Linked DNA regions of Homo sapiens: region 2 is linked to region 1. Evidence: fine-mapped expression QTL. A gene starts in region 1. The other region holds a variant in brackets. All regions are shown on one strand. Distances are from middle to middle.

The links.
Region 2: its variant is fine-mapped to the expression of MCOLN2 in whole blood (TOPMed, PIP 0.95).

Annotation. Positions count from the first base shown.
Region 1 is chr1:84,993,849-84,999,230 of GRCh38, forward strand. It overlaps MCOLN2 (mucolipin TRP cation channel 2), which reads right to left and starts at 3,265. Exons shown (of 14, transcript NM_153259.4): 1 at 2,948-3,265. The coding sequence starts at 3,024. RefSeq lists enhancers at 1,748-1,807, 4,128-4,999 and silencers at 2,608-2,657, 3,268-3,557.
Region 2 is chr1:84,932,068-84,937,449 of GRCh38, forward strand. All of the region lies in intron 11 of MCOLN2 (mucolipin TRP cation channel 2), which reads right to left. Among named protein-coding and RNA genes, the nearest start is that of LPAR3, 42 kb to the left of the region's middle. The variant C/A (reference allele first, on the strand shown) is at 2,364.

The sequences.
Region 1 (5,382 bases):
CTCGATCTCCTGACCTCATGATCCACCCGCCTCGGCCTCCCAAAGTGCTGGGATTACAGGTGTGAGCCACCGCGCCCGGCCAAATAATAAGTCTTGAAAGTTGAAATTACTCCTTGATCCATGGGCTGCAGAATGGATGTTGTGTTAACATATATGAAAACAACATTCATCTCCTTGTACATCTCCATCAGAACTTTTCAATGATCAGAGGTATTATCAATGAGCAGTAATATTTTGAAAGAAATCTTTTTTTCTGAGCAGTAGGTCTCAACCATGAGCTTAAAATATTCAGTAAATCATGCTGTAAACAAGTGTACTGTCATCTAGGCTTTGTTGTTCCATTTACAAAGCAGAGGCAGAGTAGATTAACATAATTCTTAAGTGCCCTAGGATTTTTGGAATGGTAAATGAGCACTGGCTTCAACTTAAAAGTCACCAGCTGTACTAGTTCCTAACTAGAGAGTCATCCTGTCCTTTGCACCTTTGAAATCAGATGCTGGCTTGTCCTCTCTACTAGGAAAGTCCTAGATGGCATCTCCTGCCAATAGAAGGCTGTTTTGTCTACATTGAAAATCTGTTGTTTAGAGTAGCCTCCTTCATCAATGATCTTAGCTACATCTTCCAACTAACTTGCTGCAGCTTCTATATCAGCACTTTCTGCTTCGCCTTGCACTTACATGTTATAGAGATGGCTTCCTTTCTTAAAGCTCATGAACCAACCTCTGCTAGCTTGAAACTTTTCTTCTGCAGCTTCATTACCTCTCTCAGCCTTCACAGAATTGAAGAGAGTTTGGGCCTGCTCTAGATTATGCTTTAGCTTTAGTGAATGTTGGTGCTGGTTTGATCTTCTATCCAGACCACAAAAACTTTCTCCATAACAGCAATAAGGCTGTTTTGCTTCCTTATCATTTGTATTTTCACTGGAGTAGCACTTATAATTTCCTTCAAGAACATCTCATATGCATTCAAAACTTGGCTAAATGGCACAAAATGCCTAGCTTTTGGTCTGTCTCAGCTTTCAACATACCTTCCTCACTAAGCTTAATCACTCCTACCTTTAAAGTAAGAGACCTGTGATTGTCCCTTGCACTCAAACACTTAGAGACCACTGTAGGGTTATTAGTTGGGCTAATTTCAATATTGTGGTGTCTCAGGGAATAGAGAGGGTTGGGGAGAGGAAAAGAGATAGAAGAATGGCTGGTCGGTGGAGTAGTCAGAACACATACAACATTTATTAATTGAGTTCCCTGTCTTATATGGGCACAGTTCATGGCACCCCAAAACAATTACAGTAGTCACATCAAAGATCAGTGGTCACAGATCACCATAACAGATATAATAATAATGATGAAAAAGTTTGAAATATTGAGAGAATTGCCACAATGTGACATAGAGACACAAAGTGAGCACATGCTGTTGGAAAAATGGCACCAATAGACTTGCTGGACACAGGGTTGCCACAAACCTTCAATTTGTAAAATAAAATAAAATTGAATTAAATGCAGTATCTACAAAGTGCAATAAAGCAAAGAACAATAAAACAAGGTATGCCTGCACTTTTTTCTATGAACCCCTTAACATGTGACACAAGAGCTCACTAAAGAGTGATTTAATTCTTCAGAACTGACACACGGAACTTAGACCCTAGGCCTTAAAGAAAACAGCCCAGCTTCAGGAAAGTCCACTTTTACTTTTACAGCCAGAAGAGTTTTCTTTGGCCACTACTTTTACTTTGAAAGCTATAGTCACAAGAAGCCATCTCTTTTTCCGCCGGTTTTAAAATTGTCTTGTTCTAGGTTTCACTTCACTGACAGAGACATAGCCAAAGAGATCAGCTTGTGAATATGATCATTCTTGACTTTCAGTTCTGTATTTCGTGCCCCTTTGCTCAAACTATGTCTCTCAGTTCTTCTCACTTGCTTCATTAAAATATTTTATATCTATTACTCTATTTTTTTAAAAAAAAACACTTTTGATATGTTCCTCCTTCACAGAAAAGAATGTGGCTACCTCAAACACTTTATTAGGATTCACTCATTTTTTATTACAGGAGGTTAAATAAAATTGGTATTATGATGGCCTCTGTATGGAAAATGTGTCGTTTTTAGAGTTCCGGCCACAGAAACTGACCTATGAACGGTTTTCTAAAGGAGAAGGGTGTGCCTGTGGAAAGTTCACGGCAACGGGAGTTTGACTCCTCTTAAGGTATGAAGAGGAAGACAGGCTAAAGTCTCAAGAAACTTCTGACTCAATAGGGGAAAGCTATCAAATTTCCCAAAAGTTGTGCGATTTTGGTTAGCACATCACAAAGGTGATGAGCAGCTCCTGAGAGTGAAACCCACATCCCATTTCTGGGGAGAACTACGTAGTTGGTTCCCTCTACATAAAATATCAGAGTCTACATCCTGACACCCATAAGAAACCTCTCCCACCTTTCTCTTACTAACCTTTTCTTCCATTCTCAGTTTACAATGACACACAATTTTGTTTCCCACAAGTACCGTTCAACCAGAGACACACACACTTACACATACGTATATATTTCATATATATATATATATATATATATATATATATATATATGTTTGGAGAGCAGGAAACGGGGGAGCCAAGGTCTGTTTGTACTCACAACTTTGGCTCAACTGTGCTGGGGTGGCTGGAGGTTTGACCACGGAGGAGGGGCCCGCTGGCAGCGCCAACCGGCTGAACTGTGCGCCTTTTCATAAAGGCCGAGGAACTGGGGTTAGCCACACTACAACCCTCCCACCTGAGGGAAAGGCCTGTTTGTTCTGGAAGGCACAGCCTAGCCTTATTTAACTAACTGCAAGCAGTTAATATAAGCATTCCCAAGGCAGCAAGCAAGCTCTAGTCTACGAAAGTAAAGCCATCGACTTTAGGAAGATTTCTCCAGTCCAGCATCCTGAAAGATGAAGCCCAGACTCCTCACCTGACGGTTAACCTGAAAACACCTGATCCTCTCTCCGGAATCCTTGCCTGGGGAAAACGATAAGGCTGCCGGGCCATGCCTCCTCCTTCAAAACTTTCCAGGGCTCTCGGGATTCGGAACAGGAAACACCGTTCACGGCCGACTCATTTCGCCCTCGCCGTAACGCGTCCGCCGAAGTTGGAGCCCTGCAAAGCGGGGTTCCCTTCTCTTACCCTTTCTGCCGGCCGCGTGGTGCGCGCAGACCCCGGCCCGAGAGCAGGCGCCGCAGTCGTGGAGTGCGGCGGGCAGTTCTCGGGCGGCTGAAAGGCGGCTCTGTGTGCACCCTGCAGGATGCGGCGCGTGGCCAGGCGCTCCCGCCCCGCCCCCAAGGGGCTGCCCCGCCCCGCCCCGCCCCGCCGCCTCCTACCGGGGACCGGAGCTTCCCCAGTTGGGGTCCTAGGGGACTTATTCCACGCTTCAGCGGACCAGCCTCCCCGCGCTCCCGGAGAAGGGGGTCGGCGACGCGGAGGCGGGGTGGGGGCCGTAGGGGATGGAACCGAGGCGCGCGCGAGAAGAGCCGAGGAAGTAAGCAGTCCCAAAAGGGGGCGGCGGTGGGGCCCCCAGGGAGGCGTGGGGCACGCCAAGGGCGCCGTGGGGCACTGACCTGTGGTGCGGCCCCCAGGACAGGCCCGAGGCGCGGTTGCACACCGGCAGGTCCAGCACCTCCATGCCTCGAGGCATGGCGCGGCCAGGGAGCGGCAGGAGGACACCTAGCGTGGGACGGCTACACCTGTCTGGGCGCAGGCCCGCCGCCCTTGCACTCTCCACCCAAGTGCCCAACGCTGCGGTACGGCCCGCTTTGGCTCGGGGTGTCTGCCGGAGAAGCGCCTTACAGAGGGACCCGGGCGGTGGGCCCTGCGGCAAAGTGGCCCACGCACCCTCCACACCGCTCCCGGGCGGCCGCACCTGGCACTCCCGGCCCTCTGGGGTTCCTGCCTTTTTCGGGGGGGTGGTGGTGAGACCGGGTCTCACTCTGTCGCCTGACCTGCGATCACTGCTGACTGCAGTCTTGAACTCCTGGACCCAAGCGATTCTCCTGCCTCCGCCTCCCAAAGTGCTAGGATTACAGGTGTAAGCCGCTGCGCCTGGCCCCTTCTTTTCTTCACTCTCTCATGCATTCATTTCTTGTTTCCACATGCATTAATTTGTCCGTTGCTTTGGTCATTCCTGTTTTGATGCTTAGGGAAACACTCACTGAGAGCCAAGCCGACCGTTGGGTACTGTGGTCTCTGGGATGACAAAGACATGGTCCTTTCCCTTGAGGACTTCACATTAAACTGACAAGTTCATTCATTCTGGCTTTTCTCTAAAGTGCACGATCATGAAAGTCTGTGACAAGGGCCATATTTCTGAGATGTTAGAAAGTGCGACCGGCGCGCAAGGAATAGGAAAAGCGAGTTGCCCTGCGCCCGCGTCGGGATGAAAGGCAGGGAGCCGGGAGGGAGCGTCAGCGTGGCCCGGCGGGCGCGGAGGGAGGGCGCACGGCCCCAGGGCTGGACTCGTAACCCCAGCGCCCTGCTGCAGCCGCCGTTGCTTTTCCCTCTTGGTGCACGAAAGGAAGACGCCTGTGGGAAATCGAACAGACAATCGGTCGCCGTTCGTGAATCTTAGAGATGAGAGTCGTCAGTACATGACCAAAAGCCGTGTTCGGCTCCTAGTGATGTTAGCTTGGTAGTTTGGACGTGGCCGACAGCCTCCTAGAGCTCGTACCCCTCCTTTTCACGAGGTAGCAGCAGCAAAGTCCGCAGTGCCAGGCTCTGTGAGTCTGCAAGCGTTTAAAAGATCTCCGGGTTTAGCTCAGGCAAAGAATATTCTGCCAGGTAATTATTTTAATATGCGTGTCCAGGCAGAAGCAGTTGGACAGACGATGTATATAAAAGCACACATAATTGACCCTCTTTTAAGGCACTTCCAAGGGGTTATTAGGCAGAAATGCCTTGGTTTTGAGCCCCTTTCATCGGAGGTGCGCAATCATCCAGCTTTGTGAATAGTAACTGCACTCCAGCCTGGGCAACATAGTAAGACCCCAACCTTTTGGCACCAGGGACTGGTTCCATGGAAGATGATATTTTCCACGGACAGGTGGGGGGATGAGGGGAGGATGTTTTCGGGATGAAACTGTTGCACCTTAGATCAGTAGGCATTAGAGTCTTATAAGGAGCACACAACCTGCAACTTAGATCCATCGCATGCGCAGTTCACAGTAGGGCTTCTGCCCCTATGAGAATCGAGTGGAACCGCTGCTCTCTTGCTCAATGTTCACTTCCTGCAGCGCGGCTTGGTTCTTAACAGGCCACAGACCTGTACCAGTCTGGAGCCCGGGGTTTGGGGACCCCTGCAGACGGAGAAATAGTTTCAAAAGGGAGATCTGAGGATCTCAAACATTAATGTGCATA
Region 2 (5,382 bases), 62 kb before region 1:
AAAGTTAATCTCTTAACAATTCCCACAGTTTTTCCCTATGTACTTTTTATATATCTAAAACCAGGATCTAACAAGTTTAGATCCTGGTTTTTCTCCTAATTAACATAAGCATCTTCTTATGTTTTCTACACTTAGAGAGCATTTGTAGGTTTTGTTTGTTTGTTTGAGACAGAGTCTTACTCTGCCACCCAGGCTGGAGTGCAGTGCAATCCCAGCTCACTGCAACCTCTGCCTCCAGTGTTCAAGCGATTCTCATGTGTCGGCCTCCCAAATAGATGGGATTACAGGTGCCTGCCACCAAGCCCGGCTAATTTTTGTATTTTTTTGTAGAGATGGGGTTTCACCATGTTGGCCAGGCTGGTCTCGAACTCCTGGCCTCAGGTGATCCGCCCACCTCAGCCTCCCAAAGTGCTTGGATTACAGGCATGAGCCACTGTGCTCAGCTGGCATTTGTTATATAACAGACCATTCCTTGAAAATGCCAACAAAACAAAACTTTTCACCACCCTAACCAGAAAAATGAACTTTTTTTTCTAAATTGCCCTATTTCTGTCAGTGATTCCAATCTCCTACCAAAGAAACATTTACTCTGAAATAATTAAGTCCTTAAAACTCTGTGTTGAATTGATTACTCTTCCCCGCTTTCAGTCTTCTAAGGCCTGTCTGTTCCTATCACATGTTTCTCCAATCCACCCTTACTACTCTACTGTGATGTCAACACAAATTTCTGAATTATTAAAGAAACTTCCAAGGAAGTCTCTTTTACTCCAATCTCTTTACCCTCCCCAGTCAAAGCTGCAGTAAAACCTGTACTTTAAGAAGAAGGCTTTCAGGTCATTTCTCCCTTGTGAGATTATACAAAGTTTGGATGCAAAATAAAAATCTAAACCAAGAAGGTTGTGATAAGTTCCTCCTTTATGCAGCCTCATCACATCTCCTCCTTGACAGTATTAATATGCTGTGCTTATCTTCTCCTCCAACACCAGGCCCATCCCTACATTTTTCCCTCATGGAATTTATTCTCCTCACCTGCTCTATTCTTCTTTCTCTTCTCTGTGTCCAATTAAGCCAATGTTCAAGGGTCATTTCAGAGTGTACTTCAAGACCAAGTGCCCTGGTAGTTCTAGTCCTTTCTCTGCACTCCGTATCGGTAAGAATCACAGAATGAACTATGGTCTTCTAATTGTTTTTATACACACTTCCCTGTACTCCAACTAGATACAAACACCGTGCCTTACACTACCAGCCACGTGGCTGGACCAGGCAAGGTAAAGTTGGTGGCCAAGGGAGAAGGTCTACAAACGCACCCCAAACAAGGATCCCACCCATGGCTTTGCTGCATCAGCAAAAACTCTGATGAACTAAAGTCCTCCTCCAAAAAGACCTAGAGGAAATATCCAAATGAACAGATCACTTAACAATATGTAGATTATTTAACAGTAAAACAGGCGATTGCCAGAGTAAATATTTTCCATACGCTACACAAGCCTTAAAACATTGAAGTTAAAGCTGAAAACATTGACATTAAAGTTGGTTTCTATGGATGTCAACTACAACTCTGACAGCACCATTAATAATTCACATTTCTTAGTTTCTTTTGGAATCCAGTCAACTCCTTTCTCTAGTTTCAAGAACCCCTAACTCCAAGCACAACTGTCTGTGCTTCAGGTTTCAACTGCAAATAGCTAGTTTGTCAGTACATGTCACATTCATTTTTTAATTTTCTGTTTAGTTACTTACCAGGCTACACACAATATCTGTCTCAACATTAACATTATTCATAACCATTTTACCTCCCCCTCCTCTTGTGAACATGAGAATTATTTTAACACACCAAAGAGTTAAAACAGAGACCCAGTCAATTTTAGGTGTTTGGTAACACCCTGCCATTTTGTACAAGAAGTGGCTGTGAACCAGAGTCTATTTCAGTGGCCAAATTCCATAGTAGAAGTGAGCTTAAAAATACTCAAGGTCCTAATGTGCTTCCAGTCTAGAAGGACCACATTTGTAAGGCATTCCTTTGGATCTTGAGTGATCATAAGCCCCTGGAAAGCAGGTACTACTCTCTCTCTGCTTCTTGTTTGTTCAAAACAAACTTTTTGGGCACCTACCATGGTCTATGTGCTGTGCTGGACACTGGGAATGTAAAGAGGAACAAACTACAGTTCCTTCCCTCCAAGAACTTGGTCTACAAGAACCTAGCAATGTTGGGTGCACAGTAGATATTTAATACGTATTAAATGGGTATTTCCATAAAGAGTCCCCATAGGTTCTCTGGGCCCACGATGAGAACTCAACCATTCATTTCACAAATGATAAGTTTGCAGTTGGGCCAAAAACCTTTAATTTCAATGAAACCATAA[C/A]CTGCAATGGCTTATGTCAGAGAACAACATAAATATTTGCTTTAAGAGCTGGTGCCAAGAATCTCATGCAAACTTTAGGCAAAATGTTTTAGCTGAGGGGTACTTGGCTAAAACCAGAGGGCTTGGAAGGAGGAAAATGTAATGCAGAGTCTGCTGAACTTTGACCCATGGCATCAGTGAAGTCCAACAACTTTTCAAGTCTTGGTCTTCTCATTTGTAAAATGGGGACAATGCAAGGCTATGATTTATTCCTCACAGGAAAAAAAGTCCTCTGGAAATGTAAAAGCCGCATTAGAGTAATGTTTAATAATTCAAGATGAGGTCTGGAAGAACATCAACAGTCTCTCACCCTCTGTGCCCAGGCATTTTGAAAGGGCACTGTGCCAAAGTCCATTAGTGCTGGGAATACACATCAGCAGGAAGCCTTTTGCATCTTGACTCCCTTTCCATTGAGCCCCTGAAATCAGATGCCTAACAGGAAGATAGGAAGCTGAAGTGTTATGGGACCCCAGCTATCAGTCAAACGGTTTTCCTAATGTCTCCTTTTTAGTTGTTTTGTTTTAAAGAAAGAATTAGCTTTCACAATCAAGGTTGCTGTGATTCTAAAAATCCCACAAAAATGCCCGCTTGGAATGCCTAGCTTTTCAAGGCTTCAGGTAACCTGAAAGTCCTCTGATTCAGATACTGGCAGAACCTGAACATGCTGACAGCTTGGATTAATTTGGGGGAAAGGATGCAAGGGGCAATAAAATATTCTAACTTCAGATTCAAAGAGGCAGCAATATGGTGAAGAAAAGCACAAAGTTCCAAAACCAGACTGACGTTCTCTCCCCCAACTGACTTGTACATTCAGTGAATTAACTCAGCTGTGTATTTCCCCAATATATCAGCCTGGTGAGAGATGCCATAAACAGACCTGCAGGCAACCCTACAGACATCCCTTATCCCTCCCCTCCTCCAGGGGTATAAAGGAAAGCTAACATTAAGTGAAAGACATAAGTCTAGAGCTGCAATGTCCATAGTGGTAGTCACCAGGAATGTGTGAATAGCCAGCATCCAATAGATAGCTAGTCCAAATTGAGACGTGCTATGTGGATAAAATATCCACCAGATCAAAAAGACTAGTATGGAGGAATGTAAAATATTTCAATATTTTATACTGAATACATGCTGAAATAATATTTTGGGTATATTAGGCTTAAAATATATAATTAAAAATAATTTCATCTGTTTTTTTATTTCTTCATGTAGCTACTAGAAAATTTTACAGTATAGGCAAGGCTCTCAATTGTAGCCCAAACTGTATTTTTCTTGGACAGTGCTGGCTCAGAGCATCCCAGTTTCACCTGGATCCTTTGAAAGGACAAATTGAACATATGGAAATGCAGTCAGGCTCACAAAACAAATAACCTCATTTTCCATGAGGTGACCTTGACACCATTGAAAGAATGAAGCCGATTACATGGCTGTCCTCTCACAGTTGATCTCCAAGTACAAGACTGTTTCTTGTCAGGCTAAATGCTCTCTTGCAATGATCTGTTTTAGATAATACCAAGAAAAGCTCTACAGGGTATGGGTCAAAGCACAGGTACTGGAGTCAGGCCGACCTGGGTTTGAATCCCATCTCTGCCACTTTCTAGCTGGGTAATCTCAGGAATATTATTTAATATATTAAGGTGCCTATTCTCTGTAACAGGACAATCAGATTTCTTCACAGAGAAGGGGAGGGAAGGGTTAACACAGCAAGGGAGATGAAGAATCTTGGGCACCATGCCTAACAGACAGCACTTGAGAATGGTAGCCATCTAGTAAAATTCTAGCAATCTTATCTGAGCACCTTCCAGAATAATGATGAGGTAGGGGAGACGGGGATGGGGTGCAAAGGAGATGGGACCACTTGTCCACAGACCTTGGAGTCAGTGAATTAAAGCCGAATCCTCAGGAACGGTATTTATTCCACACAGTGCAACACTGCCCTCTAGTGACAAAGAGGTGGAAAAGCTTTCAGAGCATGAGGCAAGCAAGGAAGAAAAATACATTTTTCCAGGCTCTAAGACAGTAAGTTCTCCAAATCAGAGAGATCATATCAAAGAATAATTTTTTCTCATGAGTCACCTTTAAAGCAGTGACATGGAGTATGAAGAGCAATATTATCAAGATTTACTACCAACCCAGAGGTTGTCACTTTGTTAATTATATAATATCTCAAATAGGAAAAACAGTAATTCTCTCTAGACATATTAAATGTGACACCTAAAAAGAAGAAAGTCTGAGTGTTCCAGGTTACTCGACATTATTCTGGTAGGACAGCACGGAGGTTTAAGATTCATGTATAACAGTTTGTAAACCAGATTTGATCACAGATTTGGTTAATGCAACTAACAAGGTCAAAACTTAAGGCTGAACTGGTATACAAACTTGGAAGGAATACTTACCATTTTTAACCTCTTTTCTCCTTGCAGAGCACCTAAGTGAGGCTAACAGTACCCTGGGTTGTTGTGGGGAGTAAATAAGAAAGAACACCGAAATGCCCAGCAGAGTGTCTAACACACAAGCAGTAAGTGTTAGCTGCTGCTATTTTTGTTGTTTCTGTTGTTCCAACTGCCACAGGCCCAAATGGAGGAAAAGCCATAAGATAAAATAACTCCTTTTACTTTTTTGGGTTAAAACCAAGGCTTACCTAGTTTCATTTCCTGATGCATCTACCAATCAAATGTATCATTTTATAACAAGAACATCTTAGCACAACTTTGATGTCCCTGAGATTATAATGCTAACTGAAGTTTGGTAATAGTTTAGAATTCAGATACTGATCTTTAATAAGGCAGAAAGATGATGCTGTAATCAAAACCGTCTGCAGAGACAAGACGTGTCACCATTTCTATCGTAAACCTACTATGGTCGTTTTAGGCAGTCTCTGCCCATCTTCATTCTTCTCAATTAACTTGGATGAAAAACATAATACTTTAAATTGGAAATTTTTTATAATAATTTTCCTCACTTAATTTTCATTTTTAAT